Linked DNA regions of Homo sapiens. The protein of the gene in region 1 interacts with the protein of each later gene in a biochemical or structural test. Each region holds a gene or a part of one and is shown in the gene's direction. Other genes may lie near its edges. The genes, in order: PATJ, PKN2, DUSP5, CLDN9, CD226, PRLHR and TNRC6B.

The links.
Region 2: the proteins of PATJ (region 1) and PKN2 interact in a test that uses a peptide from one of them, tested with the Homo sapiens proteins (one large-scale study listed by IntAct).
Region 3: the proteins of PATJ (region 1) and DUSP5 interact in a test that uses a peptide from one of them, tested with the Homo sapiens proteins (one large-scale study listed by IntAct).
Region 4: the proteins of PATJ (region 1) and CLDN9 interact in a test that uses a peptide from one of them, tested with the Homo sapiens proteins (one large-scale study listed by IntAct).
Region 5: the proteins of PATJ (region 1) and CD226 interact in a test that uses a peptide from one of them, tested with the Homo sapiens proteins (one large-scale study listed by IntAct).
Region 6: the proteins of PATJ (region 1) and PRLHR interact in a test that uses a peptide from one of them, tested with the Homo sapiens proteins (one large-scale study listed by IntAct).
Region 7: the proteins of PATJ (region 1) and TNRC6B interact in a test that uses a peptide from one of them, tested with the Homo sapiens proteins (one large-scale study listed by IntAct).

Annotation. Positions count from the first base shown.
Region 1 is NC_000001.11:61,745,480-61,748,979, forward strand, and holds part of PATJ (inaD-like protein), read left to right. Parts: intron 1-1,619; exon of another isoform or gene 1,620-1,653; intron 1,654-3,500.
Region 2 is NC_000001.11:88,687,273-88,690,772, forward strand, and holds part of PKN2 (serine/threonine-protein kinase N2), read left to right. Parts: intron 1-3,500. UniProt on the Homo sapiens protein: PKC-related serine/threonine-protein kinase and Rho/Rac effector protein that participates in specific signal transduction responses in the cell.
Region 3 is NC_000010.11:110,500,907-110,504,406, forward strand, and holds part of DUSP5 (dual specificity protein phosphatase 5), read left to right. Parts: intron 1-1,814; coding exon 1,815-1,963; intron 1,964-3,500. UniProt on the Homo sapiens protein: Dual specificity protein phosphatase; active with phosphotyrosine, phosphoserine and phosphothreonine residues. The highest relative activity is toward ERK1.
Region 4 is NC_000016.10:3,011,545-3,015,005, forward strand, and holds CLDN9 (claudin-9), read left to right. Parts: upstream 1-1,378; 5' UTR 1,379-1,818; coding exon 1,819-2,472; 3' UTR 2,473-2,961; downstream 2,962-3,461.
Region 5 is NC_000018.10:69,892,374-69,895,873, reverse strand, and holds part of CD226 (CD226 antigen isoform a precursor), read left to right. Parts: coding exon 1-173; intron 174-3,500.
Region 6 is NC_000010.11:118,589,497-118,592,131, reverse strand, and holds the end of PRLHR (prolactin-releasing peptide receptor), read left to right. Parts: 3' UTR 1-2,135; downstream 2,136-2,635. UniProt on the Homo sapiens protein: Receptor for prolactin-releasing peptide (PrRP). Implicated in lactation, regulation of food intake and pain-signal processing.
Region 7 is NC_000022.11:40,268,425-40,271,924, forward strand, and holds part of TNRC6B (trinucleotide repeat-containing gene 6B protein), read left to right. Parts: intron 1-1,697; coding exon 1,698-1,856; intron 1,857-3,500.

The DNA of each region.
Region 1 (3,500 bases):
GCCAGGCTGGTCTCGAACTCCTGACCTCAAGTGATCCACCTGTCTTGGCCTCCCAAAGTGCTGGGATTACAGGCGTGAGTCACTGCACCTAGCCAAAATTATTTTACTTTATTTTATTTTAATTAATTAATTTATTTATTTGGAGACGGAGTCTTGCTCTGTTGCCCAGGCTGGAGTGCAATGGCGCTGTCTTGGCTCACTACAACCTCTGCCTCCCAGGGTCAAGCGCTTCTCTTGCCTCAGCTTCCCAAGTAGCTGGGATTACAGGCGCCTGCCACCACACCTGTCTAATTTTTATATTTTTAGTAGAGATGGGGTTTCACCATGCTGGCCAGGCTGGTCTCGAACTCCTGACCTCAGGCGATCCACCCGCCTTGGACTCCCAAAGTGCTGGGATTACAGGCGTGAACCACCGGGCCTGGCAATTATTTTTTTTTTTAAAAATTTTTATTCATTTATTTTATTTATTTATTTTTGAGACAGAGCCTTACTCTGTTGCCCAGGCTGAAGTGCAGTGCCGCGATCTCCACCCACTGCAAACTTCACCTCCCTGGGTTCAAGCGATTGTCCTGGCTCAGCGTCACAACCTCAGGTGTGCGCCACCACCACTGGGTAATATATATATATATATTTTGTATTTTTAGTAGAGACAGGGTTTTGCCATGTTGGCCAGGCTGGTCTCGGACTCCTGACCTCAAGAGATCTGCCCGACTTGGCCTCCCAAAGTGCCAGGATTACGGATGTGAGCCATCACGCCTGGCCTCTTTTAAAAAATTTTTAGTAGAGACTGTGTCTCGTTATATTGCTCAGGCTGGTCTCGAACTCCTGGTCCAAGCCGTCCTCCCGATTTGGCCTGTGAAAGTGTTGGGCTTACAGGCGTGAGCCACCCTTCTGGCCCAGAGAATTTCTTTACAGCCACCTTCAAGATGGAAAAGCAGGGGAAGATTAGAGTCCTGCCTTGGGGAGAAAAAGGAGCGAATGAAAGGAGGGGCAGGAGAGTGTCAGAGATATTTCTGGGGACTGCTTCTGAGACTTAAAGCACCCCAACAGTATAATAAAAGACTGTAACAAGAGTTATGGGAGTTATAAACCAGGAATCATGGATGAAAACCAATATGCAATATCACAAGGTCACATAAAATGGGTTTCCCATCAGAAAAATAGTTGTGTTTGAAGCTGAATAGAAAATTAAGCTCTATTCTGCATTTAATGAAACCGTAATAAGTTTAAGCCATACATTAATATTTCTGTAACTATAAAGCTAACATATTCATTGTAGAAAAATTGGAGAAAATTTTCAAAAAAGAAACTAAAAGTACACAGACTACTATTGAGAGATAACCACTAATAACATTAGGATGTATTTTCTTTCAGATTGCATTTTTAAAGTTAAAGAGAAAAATCTGTATATATGTTCTCATAGTGAATTCACATTTAGAACCTTGTGATTCTGAGACAATGACTCAGCATTTTCTAGTTCTTACAATTGCATTTTTACTTAACAGCATTTAATAATTATCCTTACACTGAGGAGCCAGCAGGCTGAATTTACTTGCTTTGTTAAAGTTTAACAAGAATATATTAGGTTGGGGAAGCCAAAGTGGGATTTAATTTGTTCACTTAAGACTTTGCTCCCCTTGGTGAGCCAACTTGGTAAGTTTTTTGAGAAACGGGACCAATCTACCTTGGTATTTGCATGACCATTGCTATGTTTTCTTCCTTAGGGTTTTGTGTAGATTTGGATGCCTTTTTTAAAGCCCTTATTTTAGGTTCCGGTGCAAATGGGGAGAAATTTAGTGCCTGTCAATACCCTTCCTTTTAAGTCAGTGGGATAGATCGATGCTGAAGATGTAGAGCTCACTTATTTTTTGTGTTCGTACAGCTGTCCAGCCAGTAAAGTTTGGAGACAAGGAATTGGGTCCACCTACCATATAACGCTTGACAAGTCATTTAATTCTGGTCCTCCAGAATCTGGTCCCATTTGCAAATGGTCTGCCTTACAGAGATTTGGCGAGGTTGAAAGAAAAGAATGTTCAAGAATGTGTCTTGTAATCTGTAAGCTGTTATTCTCCTGCTTTTTGTTCCTCCCTTATGTTTAATTCCGGTAAAATTATGGAGTTGTGATCTTTTTATTGGGAAGAACTCAAGTTTGTGAGTGCTCTTACTCAGATAGTTACTTTAAGAAAAGGCATAGAGACCATATGAGCTGAACTGATGAAGTCTTTCCTAAAAACACGGTGGAGGAAGAAAAAACAAAACCAAACAGGGATCTTTCTGGAAAGGCATAGATTAAAACTTTACTACAGTAAGCCACTCTCACACGTGGGCATGGGCCACTTTATATTGGGTTAGTTAGGATTGAAATGTGCTGTAAATGCACAATACACACAAGATTTTGAACAGATTTCATGTAAAAAGGAATCTAAAATATCTTATTAATTTTTATTTTTTGAGACACAGTTTCACTCTGTTGCGAAGGCTGGAGCCGCCTCCTGGGTTCAAGTGATTCTCGTGCCTCAGTCTCCCAAGTAGCTGGGATTACAGGCGTGCGCCACCACACCCTGCTAATTTTTGCATTTTTAGTAGAGACGGGGTTTCACCATGTTGCTCAGGCTGGTCTCTAACTTCTGACCTCGTGATCCACCCGCCTCGGCCTCCCAAAGTGCTGGAATTACAAGTGTGAGCCACTGATCTGAATATGTTTATTCTTAAGAGGGTTTAGTTTACCAAAGCACTTACACTGCTATGTGTATACTGCCTTAATGCCTTTTTTTTTTTTTTTTTTTTTTTTTTTGAGACGAGTCTTGCTCTTTTGCCCATGCTGGAGTGCAGTGGCTTGATCTCCGCTCACTCCAACCTCTGCCTCCCAGGTTCAAGCCATTCTCCTGCCTCAGCCTCCTGAGTTGCTAGGACTGCAGGCATGCACCACCACGTCTGGCTAATTTTTTGTATTTTTAGTACAGACGGGGTTTCACCATGTTGGCCAGGCTGGTCTCGAACTCCTGACCTCAAGTGATACGCCCGCCTCAGCCTCCCAAAGTGCTGTGATTACAGGCGTGAGCCACTGCGCCTGGCCATGTAAATGGATTAATACTCCAAATTATAGGTCCTCTCTATAACCTCCTCCCTTATACTCACTACAGTGGTGAAACATTTTATTTTTCAGTCTTCTCAGAACTAACTTACTGATTACACACTAAAATCTCTGCTACAATAATTTAATTATTAGCTTTTGCAGTGCCATGATCATGGTTCACTAGCCCTGACCCCCTGGGCACAAGGGTTCCTCCCACCTCAGCCTGGACTACAGGCACGCACCGGCACGCACCACCACGCTCAGCTAGTTTTTGTTTTTGTAGAGATGGGGTTTTGCCATGTTTTAAATCATTTTGATTGAAAAGAGATGCTAATAGTAGTTATCATTTGTTGAATGTGTACCATGTGCTAGGCCAAATGCTCTAAATTATCCTCTTTAGTGTTTGCAGTATACATATGAAGTA
Region 2 (3,500 bases), about 27 Mb from region 1:
TTAATAAACTATGTAAACTTTGGTGGCTAGAGGTTTCAAGGTATAAGGAAGAATATTTACTGTAGTAAAAATAAAAATCGGCTGTTTAAAATGGCCAATTTCTAATTTTTATCTCATAACTAATTTGTTGTGTTGTATTCTCTTTTTTTATTTGAAGTATAGCAGAAAACAGACATTTTTGCAATGCCAAAGAAACTAAAGTCTATTTCCAAGAAACCTGGATTAATGAAAACTGTAAAGAATCTCAGAATGAAAGTGTTGGCTACAATGGTAATTTTGTAGAATGCAGACCAAATATTGAGCAGTGTACTAACAAAGCTACCTTGTTGATTATTGGAGATTCATTTTCTTCATCAAAATGCCCAATAAAGTGTTGGTCTGGGAATCTTAAATTCCATTCTCAGCAGATTTTATTTAGATAGAGGTAACTTGCTCAAGTGGAAAGTTGAGATAGTTACCCTTAAATTACAGGGGTTAATTTCACCAAACAGTTATGTAGTATCTACCAAAGCTATATTGGAGGATATAAAGATGACAAGATAGGTTTTTGCTTTCCAGAAGAGAGTATAGATAATTGTACTAGAAGATAATTATAAGAGACTACAAATAACATTTTAAAAATTATTTGCTATATATCAGACATTGTACTTAGTGTCCTATACACCTTATTTGATCTTCACAACAATCCAATAAGGTAGGTGTTATTTCCATGTTGTGGATCAGGAAACAAGTTCAAGAATGTTAAGGAAATTGCTCATGGTTACATTGTGTGTCTGAGTTTGAACCCAGGTCTGTATGTTTCCCACTACACTATTCTTTTTTTTTTTTCTGGAGACGGAGTCTCGCACTGTCACCCAGGCTAGAGTGCAGTGGTGTGATCTCTGCTCACTGCAATCTCCACCTCCCAGGTTCAAGCGATTCTCCTGCCTCAGCCTCCCAAGTAGCTGGGATTACAGGCACCTGCCACCACACCCGGCTAATTTTTTGTATTTTTAGTAGAGACGGGGTTTCATTATGTTGGCCAGGCTGGTCTTGAACTCCTGACCTCGTGATTCGCTTGCCTCGGCCTCCCAAAGTGCTGGGATTACAGGTGTGAGCCACCATGCCCGGCGCCACTACACCATTATTTAAATTGCCACAGTTCTGGGGAACTATAAATGTTTTGCATCTAATGTTATAGTTGTATGAACTTTCTACAAATTGGCCAAAAACGTAATTAACCAACATTAACTTTACACTACTTGTTAGCTCCGTCTGTAACAAGGAAAAATGATTTCTACATTCCACTTGGTAGTCTATAATTTAGCAGTGTTTTATTATTGTAGATACAGTCTAATATTTCACAAAGAATAATAGTACAAATAATCTTTTTACAGGGTTTCTTCATTAAGAATTACTGTTTCTAATGAAAGGTGTCACATGCTTGCCCAAAACTTCCCAAAAGATTTAACATTACTCTGTAGACTGTGCTTTGCTTTAAAATTTTATACTCACATGTAACCTAGCTCTGTGTTTGACACTTAGTAGGTGCGCAATACATTGATGAGAATGCTCCATTTGTCACGTAGGAGGAGGGATGTCTAGGTTATTTTAAGAGAAGTTCATTATAATCTTTGACATATGAAATTACGTAGTTTTCTTTAATTTACATTTCTAATCCCTTCTCCCAAAAATATTCTCTTTAAAAGTACAAAAGGGATTTCTATAGTAGTTACATCATTCTTCCATATAGCACACTGGTAGTTTACTCATTTAATGGAAAATGAGAAGACGGCATCTAATTTTGCAGTGACACTGGAAAGTGGAAGGTCTGAGTTGGGAGGATTAAAATTTTAGGGTGGTTTGGGGGTTGGTGGTATGAGAAGGTAAACAGGGTAGTTAAGACAGACTTTACATTGTTTTCAAATTAGAAATGTAATGCACATGTATTACAGAAAATCCAGAAAATGTGGAAAAGCACAAAAGAAAATAAAAGTTGCTCATAGTTCTGTCACTTAGAGACTGACAGACTTTTTCCACCTAAAAGTCCCATGGCTGTAGAGTCCATTTTTTCTTTTTTTTCTTTATCTCATTTTACTTACTAGAATTTTGAAGAAAAATGAAGCTCAGAGAATTTTAAGATAGAAATCACAGTAGGTTAAAAACTTTTTTCTTGCCACTGGTTCTAGATGAGTGGATCTAATTAGCTTTTATTGCCTTTTTTAATCTCAAAATATTTCAATTATGAGTCACGGCTTTATTAAGAAGAAAAGTGCAGGCTGGGCATAGTGGCTCACACCTGTAATTCCAGTGCTTTGGGAGGCTGAGACAGGCGGATCACCTGAGGTCAGGAGTTCGAGACTAGCCTGGCCAACTTGGTGAAACCCTGTCTCTACTAAAAATACAAAAATTAGCCAGGTGTGGTGATGTGTGCCTGTAATCCCAACTACTTGGGAGGCTGAGGCACAAGAATTGCTTGAACTCAGGAGGCGGAGGTTGCAGTGAGCTGAGATCACGCAACTGCACTCCAGCCTTGGTGACAGAGTGAGAACCTGTCTCAAAGAAAAGTGCAGTAGTATGGATTTAGTAATAGACAGTAATGAAGTATAGCAACAATTTCTTTGAATAATATAGCAATACAGTGTGTTTTTCCGGCTTAGGTTTGATTGTTGCTGCTCTTATAGACTACCACAATGTTTGTAATTTGCAGCGCATACTTTGCTGAATTAAACATACTAAATAACTTTCCAAATATTTCTTGACTACCAAGATAAAAGTCTGTGTTAAAACTAGTGTTACTAAATGATGGCTCTAAAATGGATTTTTTTGTCATCTCTCATTAGTGTAATAGAGATTAGGTCTAGTATCATGCAATTCCTACCATTCACATAGTGTTGAAATAGGGACAAGTAGGGGCACCTTTTAGACATCATCTCTTTATCCCAGAGCTTAGCATCTGATTCCTTGGGCTCTCTTATTTCTGCTTTTTGAATTTGGCAATGGTAAATTTTCATGCCATTCATCAGAAGCATGTTTACTTTTAAACAAATAAAGTAGTAGTTTGTAAACATCACCTAAAATAATGTTACTTTCATACCATAAATGGTATTTGAATAAAACAGTTAATTCTACATTATTCCCTCATAAAATATACTGTGCTGATAATTGTCAAATGTCTATATTATTTCAAAAGCCAATTTTACTCTACAGTATATGACATTTAATATGATCAACTTTTGATATACAGCAGAGTTCAAACTTGACAGCAAAGTTGAAAACTAGTTAAAAGCTTTAAAAAGATTTAAAATTTAGAGTGGGAAAAATATACTAATGAAAAAGTAATTCCTTAATGAAACAGAAATAGAGAATCTTTATCTTGATGCATGTCTAGCTTGTCTTAATTTTATCTGATGAAATCTTGTTTGAAACTAGCTCTATTATCATACTTGGTTTTTTTTTGCAATCACAAAAATGAAATTTGTGTAACATTATATACATAAATATTGCCTGTAAAAAATGAA
Region 3 (3,500 bases), on another chromosome or scaffold:
ATGCAGGATCCAGCCCACACCCGAACCTCTTATCTGTCCTCCTGATAGCCAACTCTGAAGTAATATATTTAAAGCCAAAAGATGGGGTAGCCTGAAGATTCCTATTTCCCCAACCTTCGTCCTGAAGTTTGGGAGGGCCCAGGTCATTCTGAACTCCAAATTCCCATCCAAATCCTTGTTTGTCTCCTGGAACCCATAATGTCGAGGTCCAGGCACGGGAAGTGATCAGGTGGTTTACTGACTAGGGATGCCTCTTCCAAGGAAGCTGTGGGTCATTGTGAGCCTGCCTCATTCTCTCTTGACTGCTGGAAGGGAAGGGGCCCAGGGGCTATGGCAGAGCATGGGAAGCTAAGCTGCCTATAGCACCATCTTGCACCTCTGCCGTGGCCTCCCGTTGTCGTGGGGAGCATGGTCATTGAGGAGGACCAGGAGCTCATGGGCAGGCGCAATGGGCTGCTTGTGAGGTGACCACAGGGGAGATCTGGGTGTACTAAGTGGGGGCGGGGCAGTTCCAGTGAGCTGAGAGGAAGCGGTAATGGCAAGATGACTCATTCTAGGAATTGGCTGCAGCTTCTGGGAGGGAGTTGGAGACTGCCTTGTAATCCATTAACCATTTGTCTACTGCAGGGCTTTAAAAAAGCCAGCATCACAACACCCAAAGTCAGAAAAGAAAAAGGGGGTTCTTTGGAAAATTCATGGTCTCAGAATGCATGTTTAATGGATTTGACTCCAAGTGAATTCTCTGGGCCAGAAAAAGACAAGTGGGCTTTCTGGAGGCCCTAGGAAATGTCTCAGGTTGCTCTCTGGGTTACCAGCAAAGGAGTTTCCCAAGCAAGGCTGGCCTGTTGCACCTGGCAGCCCTTGGCATTCTGAGGGTTCCAAGGCCACCTTTTCATTCGGTTCTTCCCCACTGAAATGGGCCCAAGAAGGCTTACTTATATTTGCAAGTTTCCGTGACTTGCTCAGAGGGTCGTTTTTACCTTATATCCATTTGGAGAGGTGTAAATGTAATATTAAGGATTCTGAGAGTCACACATGCCGTAAGTTGACTTATTGATTGGGGGGGGGGTGCAGGAGGAGTAGGAGAGAAGTAAGAAAAGTGGGGATAAGAAGATAGGGTGGTCATGAAGGGGACAGAGACAGTTTTTGCTCATGAGGGCTGAGAATTAAATTCAGAAGTCTTTATTCTTTCAGTTGATTTAGAAGGTAATTAACTGGATTGATGACTCCAAATTGGACCTAGAAAGGATTGTCAGCAGTGTTCTTCTTAGCACCTTGGGAGTGAGAAGCAGTGAGGCTGTTTTACTGCCCTGAGTCGAAATGAAACCTCGTATCAGCCCCCATTTCCTTATAAATGGAGGAGGTTCCAGCTAGAATCCTGCTTAGAGCAGATGGGCTGGGGAAGAAGCCACTTCAGGAGCCTGTCTTCTCGCCAATTAATGAAATTTTGGGTAATCACACCTTCCTTTTAGATAAACAAGAGAGAAAATAGCCTTTGTTTTCTGGAGGGATTTGGTTAGTATTTGCCAGATGCTAGACACTTTCTTTCACAGTTTAATCTGCTTCTGATAGACACAAAAAGTTAATCATTGCCTCTGAAAGAGTTCTTTTTAGAGGTTTGTATGTGTGTACAGCCCCTTTCTATTCTAAATCTGTTTGCTGGTTTTGCTCAATTTTTAATGACCAGAATCTGTACTGGCTTATTTTTTTTCTTAACTGTGTAACACTCAGAGTATTGATTAACTATGGGTATTTTTGACAGCGTGAGAAATTGATGCTTACCATCTGTCTCACCTTTTTGTTTGTTTTTGTAGGGGGATATGAGACTTTCTACTCGGAATATCCTGAGTGTTGCGTGGATGTAAAACCCATTTCACAAGAGAAGATTGAGAGTGAGAGAGCCCTCATCAGCCAGTGTGGAAAACCAGTGGTAAATGTCAGCTACAGGCCAGCTTATGACCAGGTACGTGATGTGATGGGGAAGAGGTATCCTGAGTGGTATTCTGGGCTCCTGTCTCCCTTCCTTCCTCAGCACCTGACTGTTCTCTCCCCACTCAGCAATGATGGTTAGTTCTTTTGTGGATCAGGGTGTTGGCAAAATCCCCTGGCTTTAGGGAGCTTCTGTTGCTTGCCAGCTTGAGCTTCCATCCAAGAGTAAATGGGCTTCCTTCCAGCAAACGAGCTGACAAGAGCAAACCAGCCACAGGATGCTTGGCAGCTTCTGGGGAAAAGGGGAAGTGAAAGATACATTATTGTCATCTGGCTTCGGAGGTTCAGAGAAGCTTTGAAATACTGGTCTAGGTTTCCCTGAAGACATTTCAGAGTTGACTTTCAGGCTTCCTGTGTTGCTTTTCTTTGTAATTGTCCATGCTCTGCAGTTTCTGCAAACCATCCCGGTACCTGTCAAGGTGTGTCTTATTGGTATGTTTAACTGAAACTGGTGTTGGTGGGGGTGCTACAGAGAAAGTCCTGTTTGGGTGGCTAAGTAGGCTCCTCTAAGGGGTTCTTATGCTTACAATTCCACAGATAACTGAAACCAGAGGAAATCAAAAGATACTAGAGGGCTTCATGTTTCTGTAAACTAGTGAGTTTTTGTTTTTCTTCTAAAAATGAGTGCTTTGTGATAACTCATTAAAGGGAAAAATAAAGTGGAAGGGGGTTACGTAGCACCATCCAGGAAGATGAAAAAGCAGGTGAGAATCCAAATCTGGCAGAAGCCAGAGATCAAAACCTAACCATTTTACGGAAGGGAAAAGAAGTGTTCTGTGACAAGTGAGATGATTGATTTTGCAGAGTCCTACAGCTGGTTCAAGGCAGCATCAGGCTCAGAACCCCTTTCTCTCAGCTCTCTGTTGTGATTATTTCAGGACCTTGTTCTGTTTTCCACATGGCCTCTAATCTAGACACCTGACCTGGTGGGAGTAACCTTTCAAACTTTTCACATAAACCAAGAACATACCCAAATCATAAGAAGAAAGATTGCTAGATGCTAAAATGCCAGCTCCCTGCCATGAACAAAACCCTGTCCCTGGGGATAAACTTCAAAGTAAAGCCAGATGACCTTTTCTTGAACGGGCTCCTTGGTCAGGAATCCTATTAGCTTGTCCAGATGCCAGGGTTAGGATTTTGTTTGTTTTCCTTTAATAAACATCCTTACAGTATATGACGAGCCTGTGGCTTTCAAGCTGTGGACATCTGGCCTAGCTAGATTTCTACTTTTGTTTGTTTGTTTGGGTTGTGTTTTCCCCCCATTTCTCAGAAAGTGAAAGAGAAATAAGAATTGGCAGAATGTTGCGAAAGCACGGCACATCTTTGGCCAAGTGAGGGGTGAGAAAGCCCTGATGTGTCTTCAAGATTCATCTGGGGAACCCCCTAATGCTACTTCTTAGAAATGCTTCTGCATTTAGAGCAGCCAGATGAGGTTGTGTTAACTTTTGGGGTTTCTGAAGGCCTTTGGCTTCTTCCTCTTGGTCTAAACAGAAGTTCAAAAAGGGAAAGAA
Region 4 (3,461 bases), on another chromosome or scaffold:
CGGCCTCCCAAAGTGCTGGGATATCTAATTTTTTGTATTTTTAGTAGAGACGGGGTTTCACCATGTTGGCCAGGCTGGTCTCGAACTCCTGACCTCGTGAATCGCCCACCTTGGCCTCCCAAAGTGTTGGGATTACAGGCGTGAGCCACCGCACCTGGCCGTCACACCCCTTTTTCAGACAACAATCCTCAGAGGTTCTTAGCACCCAGGCAGGGGCTTGAAGGAGTTCATGAACCCTCCCCCACAAATGAGGGGCACATGTTTGTGGGTGCATGTTCTGTGAGTCCCACGGGGTTTCTCAAGTGGGTCTTTGACCAAAGGAGGTTAAGGACCTCGACCTTCCATGACCTGTCCCAGGTAGGGGTCAGGATTTGAGCTTTGGTCAGTGGGACTCCCAGGCTGTCCCCATGAGTGGAATCACAGGCTCTGAGGGGGTTTTTCCGGAGGTAAGGCTTTCCTGCAAACTGGAAGGCAGGTCTTGGGGACACTTGAGTCCCTGGACTTAACCCCCGTGCCCACCTCTGGGGTGTTTTGGCCCGGGAGGCCTGACTGGCCACTCACTCACCCACCCATGGAACATAACCGGGTCCTGGGCTGTGCCCCACCCTGGGTTCCAGCCCCAGCCCGTCCCGCCTCCATCCCCCTTCCTGAGTGCCCCCCAACCTCCACAACAGGCCCCTCATCCTCTGGCCTCTGGAGATCTTAGGCAGCTCAGCTCAGCCTCGGTTTCAGCAGCAGGGGTGGCAAGAGCGCACCTGAGCTGAGGTTGAAGTGGGGGGTAGTTTTCTAGGCCGTTGCCAGGGCGATGCCACCTGAGCTGGGCGCCAGGCACCTGTCGTCTGGGGAACAGTGCAGGCGGGGACCTTCCCCCGGGAGCTAGCGGGGCCACTGGGCTGAGACGGGGGATGGATCAGATTCCAGAGAGTCCCAGGCGGGCGGGAGTGTGCGATACTCGGGGAGCTGGGGCATGTTTGCATCACGAAACTCGGCTGGGGGAGAGCAGAGGCAGCTGGGGAGGGGCTGCGGAAGGAGGAGGCTCAGGAAGGCAAGCCGACGCCCCCTGTGTGTGTTTCTGTCCTGAGCCTGTTACTTTTTTGACCCCCGATCCGTCTCTTCTTCCTCAGCTTGTCCTCCATCTTCCCCTCCTTTACCCTTGGTTCCCACATGCACAGATGCTACGGACGCTTTTCCTCCCCTGTCCCCACTCAGCCGCAGCATCCCCCGCTGGCCCCCAGGCCCCTCATCCATCCGCTGCCCACGAACCCCCAGCCCCGCACCCTCCCCGTGGCTCAGGTCTCCCCTATCCCGGCCTCCCTGCACTTCACTCTGCTCCTCCCCTGCCTGGGCCTTAAAACCCCGCCTGCAGCCGAGAGCCCGCAGAGTCCCCAGGTGGCACTGTCAGAGTCGCTCAGTGGGAACCTGCGCCAGCCGGCAGGAGACGTGGCTGTCCTCAGCCTGGCAGTGCGTCTGGAGGGCCTGTGCGAGCTCAGCCCAGGTGTGACAGCGGGGTGGTAAGAGCAGCAGCACCCTCAGGGCATCCGATGGGCGGAGGCCCCTCGAGGTGACACCCACCACTCAGCCGAGCGGGACTACGAGTCTGCTTTGTGCTCCGCGAGGACCAGAAACACCTGCAAGAGGCACGGAGAGGAGGCGCCTTTCAAGAGGCGCCTTTCATGGAACTGAGGACTGGCCTGGCTTGGGGACACCAACAAGCCTTCCCCCTCCTGCTGGACACAGAGACACCCACCCAGCACACCAGACACACCCTCTGAGTCACCTAGGCCGCCTGGGGCTGAGAAGACCTAACCGAGGGGCCAGATGGCTTCGACCGGCTTAGAACTGCTGGGCATGACCCTGGCTGTGCTGGGCTGGCTGGGGACCCTGGTGTCCTGCGCCCTGCCCCTGTGGAAGGTGACCGCCTTCATCGGCAACAGCATCGTGGTGGCCCAGGTGGTGTGGGAGGGCCTGTGGATGTCCTGCGTGGTGCAGAGCACGGGCCAGATGCAGTGCAAGGTGTACGACTCACTGCTGGCTCTGCCGCAGGACCTGCAGGCCGCACGTGCCCTCTGTGTCATTGCCCTCCTGCTGGCCCTGCTTGGCCTCCTGGTGGCCATCACAGGTGCCCAGTGTACCACGTGTGTGGAGGACGAAGGTGCCAAGGCCCGTATCGTGCTCACCGCGGGGGTCATCCTCCTCCTCGCCGGCATCCTGGTGCTCATCCCTGTGTGCTGGACGGCGCACGCCATCATCCAGGACTTCTACAACCCCCTGGTGGCTGAGGCCCTCAAGCGGGAGCTGGGGGCCTCCCTCTACCTGGGCTGGGCGGCGGCTGCACTGCTTATGCTGGGCGGGGGGCTCCTCTGCTGCACGTGCCCCCCGCCCCAGGTCGAGCGGCCCCGCGGACCTCGGCTGGGCTACTCCATCCCCTCCCGCTCGGGTGCATCTGGACTGGACAAGAGGGACTACGTGTGAGGCGGAGGTTTCCCCTGGGAGCCCACTGCTCCCCACTGCCCCGCCCTTTCGACCTTGGCCTGATGACCAGATGCCCTGCTCCATCACAACCTCCTTCCCCAGGAAAACCCACTTTCCAAAAGCCCAAGCTACACCTGGCTGCAGGGCTGGGTCAGCTGGCCTGGCTGAGCTCTTCTCAGTGGGGTCCCCTTTGATGTTCTCCCCCAAGTTGGGCAGCCTAGAGGTGTTGGGAACCCTGGCCTGCCCCCACCTCCCCAGTAATTGTTTCCTTCCGTTGCCCAGGACACTGGCTGGCCTTCCTTCTCTTCTGAGCCCTCCCCTGCCCCAGGAACCCTGGCCTCACCAAAACAGCAGCAGCTCGTTGGCTCCAAAACCAGGGAGCAGACCATGCCCTCCCAACCCTGGAGTTGTCAGGGAGGGCCTGCCCATCACCTCCCTCTCCCCAACATCCCCACCCTCGAGTTGGAAATAAAGAGCATTTGTAACTGGGCTCCCTCTAATCTGTGCGCCGCCGCTGGGGCTGGGCAGGCACAGCCAGGTGGCCTCCCTTGGTGGCTGTCAGGCCAAGGTCTGGCTCTAGGTTCTGCCTGGTGGGTATGCTCACTCAAGCCACGGGGAGAGGGGATCGTGACTCACTTATGCCCATCTCTTCCCCTAGCCAGGGTGGGCACTCAGTAACCCGCTGCAACACCAAATGCACTAACAAAACATGCTTTATTTGATAAAAATGTGAGTGTAAAGGGGGTGAGACGAGGGGGGCAGGGCAGAAGGGTGCAGTGTTGGAGGTGGGGGCGGGGGTCTACATAGCTGGGACCTGGCCCTGGGGGGTGGACGTCTTATCAGGACGGAGGAAACAGAGGTCAGAAGTTCCGGAGGTGGGCAGTCCTTTGTTAACAGATCATTTGTTTTTCCAGGGGTGAAGAGAGGAGCTCCAGAGACCTGAGTAGGATGGGGGGCAGCTGTCCAGTGACATCTAGGGAAGCCCAGCC
Region 5 (3,500 bases), on another chromosome or scaffold:
AAATTTCACCTCCAAGTTCCCAAGACAAATAGTGAGCAACTGCAGCCACGGAAGGTGGAGCGTCATCGTCATCCCCGATGTCACAGTCTCAGACTCGGGGCTTTACCGCTGCTACTTGCAGGCCAGCGCAGGAGAAAACGAAACCTTCGTGATGAGATTGACTGTAGCCGAGGGTGAGTGAGCACCAGACATCTTCTGGTATCAAACATGGAAAAAGCCAGCCCCGTGGGCTGGTCTCTGTTTTTATTTATGGTAAACATGTTCATTTAATGCGCATATTCAGCATTTTTTTAAATGGCTGAATTTAGGTGAGTTGGCCATTATTCTAGTATTGAGGGTTTCTTTATCTTGTGAATCCATCAATCAGATACAGCAATAAAAATCTTTCCAATTTTCTTATCTGCCACCATCCTGAAGCTTAAAAAAGAAATTCGTAAAGGGCTGAAAAACATATGGTATTACCAGCCTTCAGGTTTCAGCTGTAGAACTCCTATCTTCCCAATTACATGAATATTTTTGATGGTGGTGATAAGGTGTTAGAATCCCCACATACCCCAGCAATACAAGACAGTGCTAGGTTGATATGGCTGAAGCAGGGCTGCGTTGAGTGCATTTCAGCAGGTGTTTGAGAATGCGGTTGCCAGTTTGCCAGACAGGAGCCTTTTTTTCTCTCAGTCTTTTTCAGATGTGGATGCAGAAACAGACTGATGTTGCATCTTAATATTACTAGGAAAATAGGTTTGACCTTGCAGATCCCCAAAAGGGACACAGGGATCCTCAGGGACCCCCAAACATACTATAAGAACCACTGACTTAGATCTTTGGTGACCATTACTGAGTATAATCTTTGTGCTGGTGAAATTGGCCTTTGGGGCTTCCACCTCCTCCAAGGCCTCCTCCAAGGCACCACACTATTTGTATATTAGGCATTTGTCTTTTTTTTGTCACAATGAAGCCTTTCATTGTGTTTCAGGACCTGCAAAACCTAGATCCACTTTGCATGAGTATGAGAAAAAGTAATTTCTTTCACTTACAGAAGTGCTAATATAGAGAGGCCCATATAGAGGTCTGTGTAGAGGCCTGCATTACAGTTGAGAGAGAGGAAGGCCATCCCAGGCTCTCCCAGCTCTGCCTCTGGGCCAGCTTCCTCACTGTCGGGACACGGAAGAGAAAATAATTTATTTTTACCTTTCACTTTGTTCTCCCTTCTTCCTTTCCTTCCTCCCTCCCCTCCCCTCCTCCCCTCCCCTTCCTTCCCTCCCCTACCTTCCCCCTCCCCTGCCCTCCCCCTCCCCATCTCCCTCCCCTTCCCTCCCCCCCCTCCCCTCCCCTCCCCTCCTGTCTCTCCCCTCCCCTCCCCTCCTTTCTCTCCCCTCCCCTCCCTTCCCTTCTCTCCCCTCCCTTCCCTTCCCTCCCCTCCCCTCCCCTCCCTTCCCTCCCTCCCTCCCTCCCTTCCTTCCTTCCTTCCTTCCTTCCTTCCTTCCTTCCTTCCTTCCTCCCACTTGAGCAGGCCCCTTCCAAAGCACTGCACTATTTGTGTATTAGGCATTTGTCTCTTTTGTCACAATGAATCCTTAAATTGTGTAAGATTCCAGCCCCCACAAAACCTAGATCCACTTTGTATGATTGTGAGAAAAAGTGATTTTTTTTTTATTTACAGAAGTACAAATATAGAGGTCCATATAGAGTTCTGTGTAGAGGCCTGTATTACAGTTCCCTCCCTCCCTTTCTCCCTCACTCTCTTCCATCTTTCCTTCCCTTCCTTCCTTCTTTCACTCTGTTCCATTCCCTTTTCTTTTCTTCCTTCCCTTCTCCCTTCCACATGCTTTCAGCCAGCTAATTTACCTTTGACTTATGTTAGACTTGTAGAGCCAACGCTTGCTAGGCTTTGGCTGTCCCTTTATAGACTTTGCTCATATTGCAAACTGATATTTCTTCCTGTGTTGAAAATGAAGAAGAAAAGGTCTTGTATAAACAGAAGCTTCCACTATAGCTCTGTGTATAATAAGGAGAGCATTTTCAGGGAATAACATCTTTTCATACACAATCACCTTGGACCACATCAAGCCTCCCTTGTTCCTCTAGGAACTGTGGTGAGACATACATTGGACTTAGAATTTAATGAAAATGATGAGTGGTTGGTGAAATATTTGGGGGAGGAAAAATTAGCAGAGACTCCTCATTTTAAATGTTGACTCTGTTCCTTCAGACACAGACAAAAAGAACTTCTTACCTAAAAATCCCTTGCATTATGGAAGTATTTTTTGAAACTGGTCAGGAAAAAGAAACAGTGAAAACAGATTAGAGACCAAGGCAAGAAAAAAATGTTCTATTCAGAAAAGTGTCATAAAGAATCATTTTCAAACACGTATAAGATTTTGCCCATTATATGCTGAAAAAGTAATTGTAAACATCTTAAATTATAGAGAAAATGAAGGTAACAGATTTTTAGGAGATATGGTTATTTAACTCTTATTAATTAATAAAAATGTCATTCATCTGTCCAAAGATGACTAAGTTTCTTGCACAAAACTATTTCTTTGTATGTAAATTATAAACAGCGTCAAACTCTGCCAATGAAATGAAGATGACTAAATGTAATGGTCAGTAGTGTTAGTGTCCATGTGTTTTGAACAGTTGCAAATGGCTTTTTGACATTCAGTTGACAGATTGAAAGAATGTCAACTGGACCTTGTATCCATTAGTAAAAAGTTATCATTGACAGAAGATGACAGCCATTGACTGTATGTTTCAGTTTAATTCCTTTTTTCAATTTTTATAAGTGAAAGATTGAATATAAAACTTAGATGCAAAGCAAAACAGATCATTTGTGTTTTCTCTGGTGCAATTTGATTATTTCACGTCTTGAGGCTCTTTGGTCAAAAATCAATGTGGAGATTAAAGCAGAGAGACAGATATAAGATGTGGGACAGATTTAATTTATTTCAACTGCCAAGGGAAAGGTGATTGTGGCAGATTTTATAAATTGCTGTACATACTTTTGTTAGTTCTCAATGACTTCTTTTATAGCACATAGTATTGGATCTAAAAGAGAGATTTTTAGGACTCTCATATTCATACACACACACACACATGCACACACAGACACGGACACACACACAGAGAGGGGCTCTTCCCCTGACTCCTACCTGCCTGCATTCATCTTCAGACAAGTACCAGGTCACTCAACAGAGGACCCCTGCCAACCAGCAGGTCAAGTATCCAGGCCTTGATTGGTTTTGAACAGAGGAGAAAATGGCAGAAGCAAGAACTGAACTCACATTTACCACTGACTTTCTTTGCTGAGTGAAAAGAAATACATTTCTCTTGTCCTTTGCACTTATGTCCTGAAATGTAGAATGAAATAATTCCAGACTGACTTTTCTGAATTTGAAACTTGCCTGGACCGAAGGGCAAGGAAAGTGGGGACGGGGGGAGCACAGGGGAATGTCTGTTTATTGACAGTGACTACAGTTATTTTTGGCCCTTAACATCCTCTG
Region 6 (2,635 bases), on another chromosome or scaffold:
TGTAATTGATGTCTGGGCTCTCCTCCCAAGAGTCTAGTTGATTTGAGATGGTGCCTGGACACTAGCATTTTCCAAAGCACTTCAGGGGATTTTAATGTGCAACCAAGATTAAGCACCTTAAGAATTATCCTTTCTAGGGCTGGGCATGGTGGCTTACACCTGTAATCCCAGCATTTTGGGGGACCGAGGCAGGCAGATCACAAGGTCAGGAGTTTGAGACCAGCCTGGCCAACGTGTTGAAACCCTGTCTCTACTTAAAATACAAAAATTAGCCAGGCGTGGTGGCGCACGCCTGTAATCCCAGCTACTCGGGAGGCTGAGGCAGGAGAATTGCTTGAACCCAGGGAGGCAGAGGTTGCAGTGAGCTGAGATTGTGCCAGTGTACTCCAACCTGGGTGACAGAACAAGACTCCATCTCGGGGTGGGGGGTGGGGGCGGGAATCCTCTTTCTAATGAATCTCAGAAACATCCGAATGAAGCTTTAGTTGTACCTGCCAAAGGTGTTAATAATTTGGAGCTGAATTTGACGGTGTTACATGCCATACTTAGAGAATACTCTTTTAGTCTTCAGGCAATACCAGCTCAATCACAAAGAGGCAAATTATTGAAATCAGAATATATAGGGATTCGTTCAACAGTTTACTTACATATTTCTTATGTATCAGTCCAATCAATTCAGAAGGAATATCATCATTCAACCTTAGGTCAATTGTATTATAAAGTTACATACCATGGCCAGGTACCATGGCTCACATCTATAATTCCAAAACTTTGGGAGACCGAAGAGGGAGAATTGCTTGAGCCCAGGAGTTCAAGACCAGCCTGGGAAATATGGCAAAACTCCATCTCTACAAAAAATAGCCGGACGTGGTGGTGCACACCTGTGGTCCCAGCTACTTGGGACACAAAGGCAGGAGGATCACTTGAGCCTGGGAGGATCACTGGGCTGCAGTGAGCTATCATTACACCACTGCACTCCAGTCTCAGTGACAGAGCAAAATCTAGTCTCAAAAAAACAAAAAAAACAAAAACAACAAAAAACAACAAAAAACAAATTTACATACCATGAATTATTTTAAATCCTGGTTGTCAGGGTGTTAGAAAAAGTGCTCCTTGATTAGCTTAAGTTTATATCAACTATGAAAAACAAGCATCTCCATTAATTACTAGAAAAGCTGCCACTGGTTTCTGTCATGCCTACAACTTAAGTTTGAAACACTTACATGGACTTTATAAAGAGCTTAAAGAGGTTGGAGAATTAGATTGTGCTTATAAACATCTTTACATATTATGAAAATCAGCAACGGAACAGCAATTAATTCTTACAACATCTGAAATGTGTTGTGGACTAGTTTATAAATCAAACCGAATTTCAAAAAAATCAGAGGTGAGTCCCAGAGAGAACTGCGTAGGACTGTAGGTAGAAAATTTTATTTAATAATTCATTTTGGTTAATATCAAGCATCTAAGATGTATACACAGTCCTCTTCCTGCAAGGAGTAATACAGGCAGTCAGGCTGGGAACTGAGCCAACTTGGTACTTGGCAGCAGCCCTTCTCAAGGCTGATGGGAGGTTCTGTAATCCTCTTTGCAAGCTTTGTCACCAGGTCACACTTTTGGCAGCCAATCAATAGATTTATCTCATTAAACTGGCAGAAGAGTGTTTCAATGCATGCTCCAACAGCTACCTGGAAATAGCAATTGTGAGAGATGCTAAGGTAAGGATATTCCAGTTCCTATAACCGTCTGATTTTTTGTCCTTGTGAATTTTCAATCTGCTGTTTTACTGGGATAGCTAAGTTCCAGGTTTATTTTCTCAGGTAGGCTCACCCACGACCTCTGTCCTGTGGTTTGCATTCCTGAACATCTGTTAGTCTTTCAAATGCAAGGCACAAAACTAACCTCAAGAGTGTGGCTAGATCTGGGAGTGAACACAGGGCCTGTCCCTCACAGACGAGAGGTCAGGAGCACCTTTGTTTCCCAAGGCAGGTTCTTGATTGATTTACCTTCATGCGTTGATGTCTTTGCTATGTGTGTAAAATGCATGTGTTGCTGAATCACATGTGAAGCTCTACATGCTGGGGTTTATACTGTGTTTGGCATGTTGTGGGAGCTCAATAAATACTAAATCAGTTGCACAGTCTTCAGCCACAGGATTAATAAACCAAGCCAGTTATACATATGGGGTAACTACACAACCTCAGGATAGCCAGAGTCAAAGCAAGGATAAATCATGTCAAGGAAAACATGCTATTCAACCTAGATTTGTCAACTCCACCTTATTCCAGAGATGAACTGTTCATTTTGGGTCTTCTGTGACCCCCTGCCCCCAACCTCAGTAATGCCAGCATTTAAATATATGGCACCAAGCTCTCTACTCCCCAAGACTGCATATGCCTAAATCCACGGGTCCATCAAAATGAGAGTAGAGAACTTCATGCCTAATTTCTATACCATCATATATTGGAGAGTTATTTAAATGTTAGCATTTTATCACCCATTTCTCACACATAATTTGGGAAGGTCTAACAACATCCCACATATGGGTCTATAAGCAAAATCACGAGGTTTCTAAAATGTTCATGATGGAGTCATAAAAAAGATTTTTCAGTACACCTAAAATACCACTCAAAAA
Region 7 (3,500 bases), on another chromosome or scaffold:
TAATCCATTTGTGGCCTCTTAGAAAAATGATTACTTTTAACTCATTCTTTTTTCAAGTATTGAAAAGAATGAGGAAGGAAATGAAGATTTCTCACTGGCTCCCCATGCAGAATAAAACCTGCTAAAATTTTAAAAAGCTACATCCACATAGCAAAAACCTTCAAACTGTGTGGAAAAGCAAAAGATAGTCAATAAAATAATCTTTGGCCAGGCGCGGTGGCTCACGCCTGTAATCCCAGCACTTTGGGAGGCCGAGGCGGACAGATCATGAGGTCAGGAGATCGAGACCATCTTGGCTAACACGGTGAAACCCCGCCTCTACTAAAAAATCGAAAAAATTAGCCAGGCGTGGTGGCGGGCACCTGTAGTCCCAGCTACTCGGGAGGCTGAGGCAGGAGAATGGGGTGAACCCAGGAGATGGAGCTTGCAAGTGAGCTGAGATCACGCCACTGCACTCCAGCCTGGGCGACAGAGCAAGACTCCGTCTCAAAAAATAATAATAATAATAATAATAATAATAATCTTAACCCCTAGGGTCTCTTCCCAAAGGTAATCTCTTAGAAGTTTGTGTCCCATTCAAAAATTTTACAGAGAAGGGATTGTACTTCGTATACTGTTCTTCACCTTGCTTTTCTCATTATACTTATAGCTTCCAATTTTAGCACATAGTCTGCTGCTTAATTGCTTCATATACAGTATTTCTTTTTTTTTTTTTTTTTTTTTTTTTTTGAGAGGGAGTCTCACTGTCTCCCAGGCTGGAGTGCAGTGGCGCAATCTTGGCTCACTGCAACCTCCACCTCCCGGGTTCAAGTGAGCCTCCTTCTCAGCCTCCCGAATAGCTGGGATTACAGGCATGCGTCGTCACGCCCAGCTAATTTTTGTATTTTTTGCTGGAGATGGGGTTTTGCCATGTGGGTCTGGCTAGTCTTGAACTCCTGACCTCAGGAGATCCACCCGCCTTGGCTCCTAAAGTGCTGGGATAACAGGCGTGAGCCATTGTGCCTGGCCTTTACACAGTACTTCTTTTATGGGTGACCCACAATTGGTCTAACCAGTCCCCTTGTGGTGGATATTTAGGTTGTTTCCAAATTTTTTCTATCAGTGATGCGGTGAGTATTGTTATACATGTAATTTCACCTATTTTTACAAGTATATTTATGGTATAATTTTCTGGCAGCCTGGGCATGATGGCTCATGCCTGTAATCCCAGCACTTTGGGAGGCTGAGCCAGGCAGATCACAAGGTCAGGAGTTTGAAGCCAGCCTGGCCAATGTGGTGAAACCCTGTCTCTACTTAAAAAAAAAAATACAAAAGTTAGCTGGGTATGGTGGCACACGCCTGTAATCTCAGCTGCTCGGGAGGCTGAGGCAGGAGAATCGCTTGAACCTGGGAGGTGGAGGTTGCCATGAGCCAAGACCACGGCATTGCACTCCAGCCTTGGGGATGGAGCAAGACTCTGTCTCAAAAAAAAAAAAAAAAAAAAAATTCCTGGCAGTTGAGTTACTGGGTGAAAAGTTTAATGTGCATCGGATTTTTTAAAAAGTAGCATTGCCAAATACCCCTCACATGAAAGTTGAATCTATTTACATTTCTACCAACAGAATATAGGCATGCCTGTTCCTTCCACCTTCACCCCACTGGATATTATGGCATTTCATTTAACAAATGATTCTTAGAGACATTTCCTTTCTTTATAGTCTGGAGCAAAAGCACACCACCTGCTCCAGATAATGGTACTTCCGCTTGGGGTGAGCCAAATGAAAGCAGTCCTGGGTGGGGCGAGATGGATGATACAGGAGCATCGACCACAGGCTGGGGGAACACGCCCGCCAACGCTCCCAATGCCATGAAGCCTAGTAAGTGTGAAGCTTTTCATTTTTGAGGGATCCTTTTTTTTTTTTTTTTTTAATTGAGACGGAGTTTCACTCTTGTCCACCCAGGCTGGAGTGCAGTGGTGCAATTTCGGCTCACTGCAACCTCTGCTTTCCAGCTTCAAGCGATTCTCCTGCCTCAGCCTCCCGAGTAGCTGGGATTACAGGCGCCCGCCACCACGCCCGGCTAATTTTTGTATTTTTATTAGAGATGGGGTTTCTCCATGTTGGTCAGGCTGGTCTTGAACTCCTGTCCTTGTGATCCACCCGCCTTGGCCTCCCAAAGTCCTGGGACTACAGGCGTGAGCCACCGTGCCCGGCCGGGATTCTTTGTTAAATGTTTGTCAAATGTCAGATTTGAGAATCTGACATTTTGGTGAGGGCTGTTTAGTTTTAAGCTGTTGATTCAATGAGATTCAGGACCTTGAGTGTTAAATAATTAGTTAATAGCAAACGGTTGTGGCTTGGCTTGGCGTTTCTTAAAATGTTTAAGGTGAATTAAAAATCATAAGTTAATTTTGTTTTAAATTTAGTATCTGGACAGAATTATAATTTTGATGTGATGCTCTTTTAGCCCAGTGACTATGTGCTCACCATATCTAGCTTGCATTTCTACTTGTTAGTATAATTTAAAACAAGAGTTCCTGGCTTTTAATGTGGAACACGATCTGTGCTGCCCAGTGACTTCATCCTTCTGCACCTTCCTTTGCCGTTGTCTCTCTTCCACATAAGAGCATTTCAGATTTTTTAAACCTGGCATAAATTTCACTTCAATTTTTTAAATGAAGAACGTCACACTTATTCAGAATCATTGAAAATCTAAAATCTAAGCTGTACTTGATCCAGCTGGTGATGTGTGGTCACAGTAATGAGCAGAACTCTGTGGACTGAGGCTATGGAATGTCTCATTGACTGTTGCTAAATTCAGGTGCCTGTTTACACTTACTTTTGTAACTTTCTTTAAAATGTTCCAACATCTCTTTTCTACCATATAGAAGCAGATTTAAGGGATTATCTTTTGATTAAATAATGAACATTTCTGGAATGACCAAAATTCAAACAAGAAGATAAATTCTGTTAAGTTTATCACATTATATTCAGTACTCTTACAGTGCCACATAAGGGAATGTGATATTAGCTCTATTCTGGAAATTCACATGTGTGTATATGTAGTAATTTGACTACATTTTAAAAATCATGAATCTCCTCGACCTCATTAAAATAGTTAGCTTTATGAAAATTTTGTTTTTATCATTATTTCTATTGTGAAATCAGTCGTATCATCATGGGAAATGTAATCTAGTAGACTTGAAATAGACCCAAAATGCTGCAAGAAGATGTTAATCAGACCCTGGGCACAAAGAGATCCTTTAGCAGTATATTCAGGATTTTCATGTGTCTTTCCCAACCTCAGGATCACCTCTCTTCTATCACAAAACCACTTTTCCTCAGATTCTAAAAATGTCTTCTACTCTTCAGGATCATCTGTAGTTATAGCACACATCCTTTCTGTGGGTAAGTTAAATGTGTAATGTGCGGAAGAAAGGGCTAAACCATCATAGTCTACCAGTTGATGGAGACAGTTACCCTGTGATCTTCTGTAGCCTGTCTTAAATTTGATGTTATGAA